Linked DNA regions of Homo sapiens: region 2 is linked to region 1. A link means that fine-mapping ties the variant in region 1 to the expression of a gene that starts in the linked region. Tissue or cell type: tibial nerve. Region 1 holds a variant in brackets; the other region holds the start of a gene. All regions are shown on one strand. Distances are from middle to middle. Region 1 overlaps VASH2 (vasohibin 2). Region 2 holds the start of VASH2 (vasohibin 2).

What was found. PIP is the estimated chance that this variant, and not a neighbour inherited with it, causes the effect.
Region 2: VASH2 starts here. The variant in region 1 is fine-mapped to the expression of VASH2 in tibial nerve (GTEx, PIP 0.91).

The regions. Positions count from the first base shown.
Region 1 is chr1:212,976,867-212,979,766 of GRCh38, reverse strand. The region is part of intron 7 of VASH2 (vasohibin 2); the gene reads right to left. Among named protein-coding and RNA genes, the nearest start is that of VASH2, 28 kb to the right of the region's middle. RefSeq lists an enhancer at 88-137. The variant A/C (reference allele first, on the strand shown) is at 1,529.
Region 2 is chr1:212,949,377-212,952,276 of GRCh38, reverse strand. It overlaps VASH2 (vasohibin 2), which reads right to left and starts at 1,736. Exons shown (of 8, transcript NM_001301056.2): 1 at 1,537-1,736; 2 at 459-938. The coding sequence starts at 734. RefSeq lists enhancers at 1,031-1,080, 1,601-1,750.

The sequences.
Region 1 (2,900 bases):
AAGGACCCGTGGGTGGAAGGGTGGGGGAGTCCTGGTTTCCCTCTTGAAACTTGGTCTCAGCGGATGCTACGCAGTCATCTTCACCTGCCCTCCCCCTCGGCTGATTCTTGTCAACCCAGTGACACTGATCCTCCTCTCGAAAGGGATTATTTAGACAAGTGCAAAAATGGAGAGGAATTCAAGGCTGGAAGTCGCTCCAGCTGGAGGGAGGAGGTGGATGGGGATATAATGCCACTAAAATTATCCATGGCAGACAGGGACTGGGACCCCACAGCTGATGGGCCTCTCGCCTGTTATGGTAATTTTCCACCCTTTGGGCCCCTCCCAAGCTTCCTCATGACACCCAACACATTTAGAAATGACGCGATGGCCTTATGTAATGCTGACAGAATAGCACAGGGACAGAGTCACCAAACCCTAGTCCTGGCCATCTTACAGTAAGATTCCCGGAGTTTGTGGAGTGATTGGGTCAAGACCATATTTGTCACTTTCTCATTTCCTCGCCAAAAGCAAGATTACCTAGAGAAAAGGCTGCTTGGCGAAGGCCATGGGTGGAAGCTGAGAAGCTGCTTCTCTCCAAACATACCTCCAGGAACACAGCTGTCCTGAGTTCTAGTGTGGCAGAATGGCGGGAGCTGGAATCTAGAGAGGGAAGCTGGGGCTTGGCGCTCCAGTGCTTGTGGCCTCTCACAGCTCTTCTTCTTATTCTCATGTCCTGCACCTCTCTTCCCTCTCCTCCTACACAGTAGACCCTGCAATCTCTTCCCCAGCCCTGCAACTCAGAAGTCAAGGTTTCGGAGGAATTAGGGAGAGAATCTTCCCTCCTCAAACACCTCAATCCATTTGAAACTTCAGCTGAGAGATCTGCCCTCCAGAGTTCCCTCCCAACCTCCAAGTGCTGGAGAAAGAGAAAAGAAGTGGCAAGGGTTTCCGCCACCAAGAATAACCATAGTCTTACTGGATTTGCTAATACAAAATTGTCCACGGGCACCTACAAGCCAACTGGGCTCTGTGGATGGTCAAACCGTTCCAAGGCCACTCGGCCCTAGTTGTGGGGAAAAAAAACCGCAAAGACTCTGACCTACTGGGAGCAGTTTAGGAAGGAGGACTTTTGGGAATCAATGTTTACCTGGGAGGAAGGGCTCGAGGGCAGGGGCGTGAGTCAGGGGGATTCTGAGGCAGGTGGCAATCACTCTTCACCTTTTTTGAAAAGTTGATGATTTCACTGAACCATCAGCCATCACCTCCGTGCTCCTGGGGCTTTCCCCACTGGGGCTGGGATCGACTTTGGGGCGTGGAGGGAGGAGGGTGATGGAAGAGAATTCCCCTCTTCCTGCAGGTCTTCCTTCCTGACCTCGAGTGACCGACCACTCCCTTCCCCAGTCTTTCTCCCCATTCCCAGGCCCACTCTGATGTGCTGGCAGGGTAGGAGGGGAGCGGGAGAGTAGATAGCTTTCACTCACAACTGAGGCAGTCTAACAGCTGTCCTCTGCAGGCGCAGGGGTGGTCACTTGCCTTGGCTGCATGA[A/C]AAAGTAGTCAGAGATTAGCGTATGGGCATGGCCTAGGGGATGAAGGACCGGAGGCCCAGTCTGGCCCCCAGGAGAGTGACCAGTTGGGCCCCTCCCAGAATGACTTCACTGGGGCCCAAACATGGGAGCCAGTGCAGGGTCAGACCCCCTAACTTCACCTCCACAACCTCATTATCCAGAGATCCAGGCAACACTGGACAAGGCTGAGCCCCTAAATCACACCCAACGGCTTTATCTGCCCCTCTCAGCAGACCCAGTACTTTTAGCCAGTGACTGTTATTTTTCAGGGTCAACCGCCAACTCAGTTTTCCCATTCTGATTCATCAAACACAGGTGGAGGCCTGCGGCTGAAGCAAACGGTAGATGTCAAAGTGTGGTCCCCGGACCAGCAGGATCAGCATCATTAGAAACACCAGTTCTCAGGCTCCATCCCATATGTGCTGAATCAGAAGCTCTGGGAAAGGGGTCCAGCAGTCTTCTGTTTCAACAAACCCTCCAGGTGATGCTGGTGCACACTCAGAGTTGAGAACAGGACTGCAGGGCCTATCTATCTGTCCTCAGCTGGGCCCTTTCTTCAACTCCTTCACTGGCAGGATAAAGGCCACTTAAGGTACAGTCCTTCAACTTCTACCTCCTCATGTATGTCAAGCTCTCCCTAATGTCCCCCCTTCCTTTGCCCTACCCTCTCCCCCACCCACCACCTTCTAAGCCCTCTCTGTAGCCTTCCATACCATGTGACCCCAGCTGCTCATATATCTTCCTCCATTAATCCCTTTGCTCTTGAACACTCATTTCTTTCTCCTGGTTATTTTCTCCGTGTGTCCAAAGACACTCTGGTCTCTTCCAATTCTAGAAAGACAAAAGCCCCAGGAGAACTCTATAGAGTTTACAAACTACCTAGAATAATCTGCTCTAAGTCCCCCGTCCCCTTACACAGGTGAGGCACAGAGAAGCAGCTTGCTCAAAGCCGCAAGCTGGTTCATGGCAGAGTTGGAGTGAGAAATCAGGTTGCTGCATCTCTGTTCAGGGCTCCTTCTTGATAAAGGAATCTGGCCTGCATCAGCTCCATCAGCTCTCACTCTCACTCCCTTTCGCAGGCTGGTTCCAGCCCCTCAGCCCTCTCAACACTGCCTCTCTAAATGTCACCTCAGTGCATAGTGCTTCTCCTTCCCCCACTACTTTCCCTCCTCCCCCTTGAAACCCACCCCTCCTCACCTTGTTGCGGCCACTTCTCATCGTTTTTGAAAAGCTTATGTTTTCACTGCTGAGCCCTGAGCCATCACCTCTGTGCTCCTGTGCTTCCCCCAGTGGGGCTGGGGTCGACTCCGGGACATGCGCGACAGAAGGTAATGGAGGAGAATGCCCTCTTCC
Region 2 (2,900 bases), 27 kb after region 1:
CAAATTCATTCACAGCTTAATAAATCATTTGCTGGGGGAAGAGGGGAGCAGAGGAGGAGCAAGACACTCCAAAGAGAACAAGCAGGGTGGGATCCCTGGGGTCTGTGCATTCTTTGGCATCGCTGGTACCTGGTGGCTCTAGCTTTTGCTGAAGGAGGATGTATGTGGGGGTGAGTAAATAATAGAGTTTGGCTGGAGCTTCAAAGACACCTTGGCACAATCCAATTACACAGTCCCAGGATAGCAAGCCCGCTACCTCTCCCTTCCCCATTTCTTAGGCTTCCAATCTAAATATCTCAATTAGAAAAGGGCTGGCAGGAAGGAATGGGGAGAGGAAGGGAGTTTGTAGCAGGACTAGGAAAATGGAGATTGCCTGTGTTTGCTATGTATAGGCTGAAACGGTCCCATCGCTGCCTACCTACCCCCAGCCCCCCAACTCCGCCCTGGAAGCCACTGACCTTTGCCAAGAAGGCGGCGTTCCTGATGGCGCCCACCATTTCTCCCCCCTTAGGGTGCACCTTGGCCACGTGCATCCACATGCGCTCCCAGGTGTGGCTGTCGATGGGGAAGCCGCTCTTGTTGACGTGGAACAGCACCCCGCCGTCTTTGTCCTCCTCCTCTGAGCCCCCGCTGGTGGCGAGGCTCACGGGCCGCGCGTGGCTGCTCCGGGACCGGGTGCCTTTGGCGCCTTTGGGGTGGGGGCAGCGGTGAGTGTCGGCCGCGGAGCCGGTCATGGTGGGGCCTGGGCGGGGAGCGAGGTACTGGGGGCGCGCGGCGGCGGCAGCGGCGGCGGCGGCGGGGGGCGTGTGCGCGCGGGCGCGGCGAGGGGATCAGCGCCCCGCGGGGGCGGCCTTCTCCATGCCTCTCGCTGCGGCAGGACTCACCAAGGGGGAGCGGCGGCGGGAGCTCCGCGGAGGCTCCCTGCTTACCGGCGGTGCCTGAAATCAGCGGAGACACAGCTGACACCACAGCTAAGTGGACGCACAGCGGAACCGAGTGAGGGGTCCCGGAGTGTCTCCACGACACTCCCCGCTCCCCCCTGCACGCTGACAGCCTCCCTGAGAATCGATGACGGGCTTCCAGCCCTGCGATTACCTAGAAAGGCAGCTCAAAATGTGCCACGAAGCTTCACACACACCTAAACCCGGGGGGTTGGGGATGGAGGGGCACAAGGAGCTTGGGGGATGCGGAGCGCAAGATGTGGGGAGAAGAAAGACAGCTTGTGTAGCATGAAGGAACAGGAGGTTCCCGCAAGGCTCCACACATTCCTGGGTCCTCAGATGTGGCCAAGAGAGGAGGGGAGCCACGAACGTGCTGGCATGTGAGCGCCCAGAGCTGGCGCGAGGGCGCTGCAGCAGCCTTGGCTTGCAAGGCGGCCCGCTTTCTTCCAGGAAGCCCTCCCGGACCCCGGCGGGGATCTAGTGGAAAGAGCTCCATCCGCCCCCTTTTCCCCGAGTTCCAGCGCCTATCACCGGGAGGGACTGGCTGCAGGCGGGCGGCGCGCAGGAAGGGCGCGCGGCAGCTCCAAGATCCTACCTCGGGACGGTTGGCTTCATGGCTGCAGAGCCTCTCCGGGCGGCGGGAGAGCAGGGGCTGCTGCTGCTGCTGCTGGGCCTGGGGCTGGGGCTGGGGCTGCTGGGGCTTGCTGGGGCCGTCGCCTCATTCCATGTCCCATTCTCGAATGTTATTCTGTGACATATAACCAAGTCACCCGGGCAGCCGCCGATGTTCCGAATGCGTCTATTGGCCACCGCAACAAAGAGGGGCGGGTCCCGGGCTCGGGACTCTACAACCCCGGGCTCCGCGACGCTCTGATTGGCTCCAGGGGTTCTCTGGCGGGAGGGGACAGGAGTAGGGGGAGCCTGGCGGCCACGCGAAATCCGATCGCTGTGGTGTCCTGAGAGCCCCGCGGGCTGGAGCGTTTGGCCATGGGACTTAAGATCGAGTTTCCCCAGGGGTCGTGGCACTTCGAGGGTTTGCAACTGTGGAAGCAGAGGAGAAACAAAACCACCCGAGAAGTGACCCCGCGGAAGCAGAGGGTTTGGCATCAGAAGAGCATTCCCTGAGGGACGCTGGACACACTTACCTGCCTCTACCCGGGATGATGAGTTGTTCATCCTCTACCTGGGATGATGAGGGGCTGTTCATACCTATGCGTGAAATTAAATCTTTTTTAAATCCCGCATTTAAAAATTCCTCAAAATTAACAAGTGGGTGCAGCTTTGGATCCTCTGGTATTAGTCATGGTTAATAAAGTCCCTTTAAGCCCAAGTTGAGAGGAGACAATAAAACTCAAGAGGTCAGGCAGGCCCTGACTGTTCTGCCACAGCTGTTGAGTGAGAGGAGGGATGGAGAGATGCTTCCAAACCATGGTGAAGTGGGTGGCTATCCCACACTCACTACTGAAACACCTTCTCTTTCTTTTTCTTTAAGAAAGAGGAGAGCAGGTTGAGGTGGGAAGAGCACCAGACTGCTGACCTGAAGGCTGGCTCCTGGTCCAGGTTTGTCACTTTGCTCAGCTGTGTGACCCTGGACAAGCCACTTCCCTGCTCTGGGCCTTAGCTTCTCTTTCTGAAAGGAGAGCAGACCTCCCGCTCTCCAGGGTCTGTTCTGGCTGTAAGGTTCTGTGATTCCCTGACTTCCTCTCTTGTGACACTGAGGATCCTGGCCATAGCATCCTTTCTCTTTAAACTGCAGGCCAGCAGGCCAGCTCTGAGCAAAGCAGTTATGAGACCTATGCTAAGTGAACCTTGAATTAAGAAGACAGTTGTCAAAGTGCCACTGATGGCGGGTCAGTTTCTGGATGCTTATCCTGACAAGTTGCCTGTCATGGAACTGGAACTTCTCTTCCACAGGAGGGCAGAGACCCCTGAGGGGTAGTTGAGAGCCAGGGCTTGGGT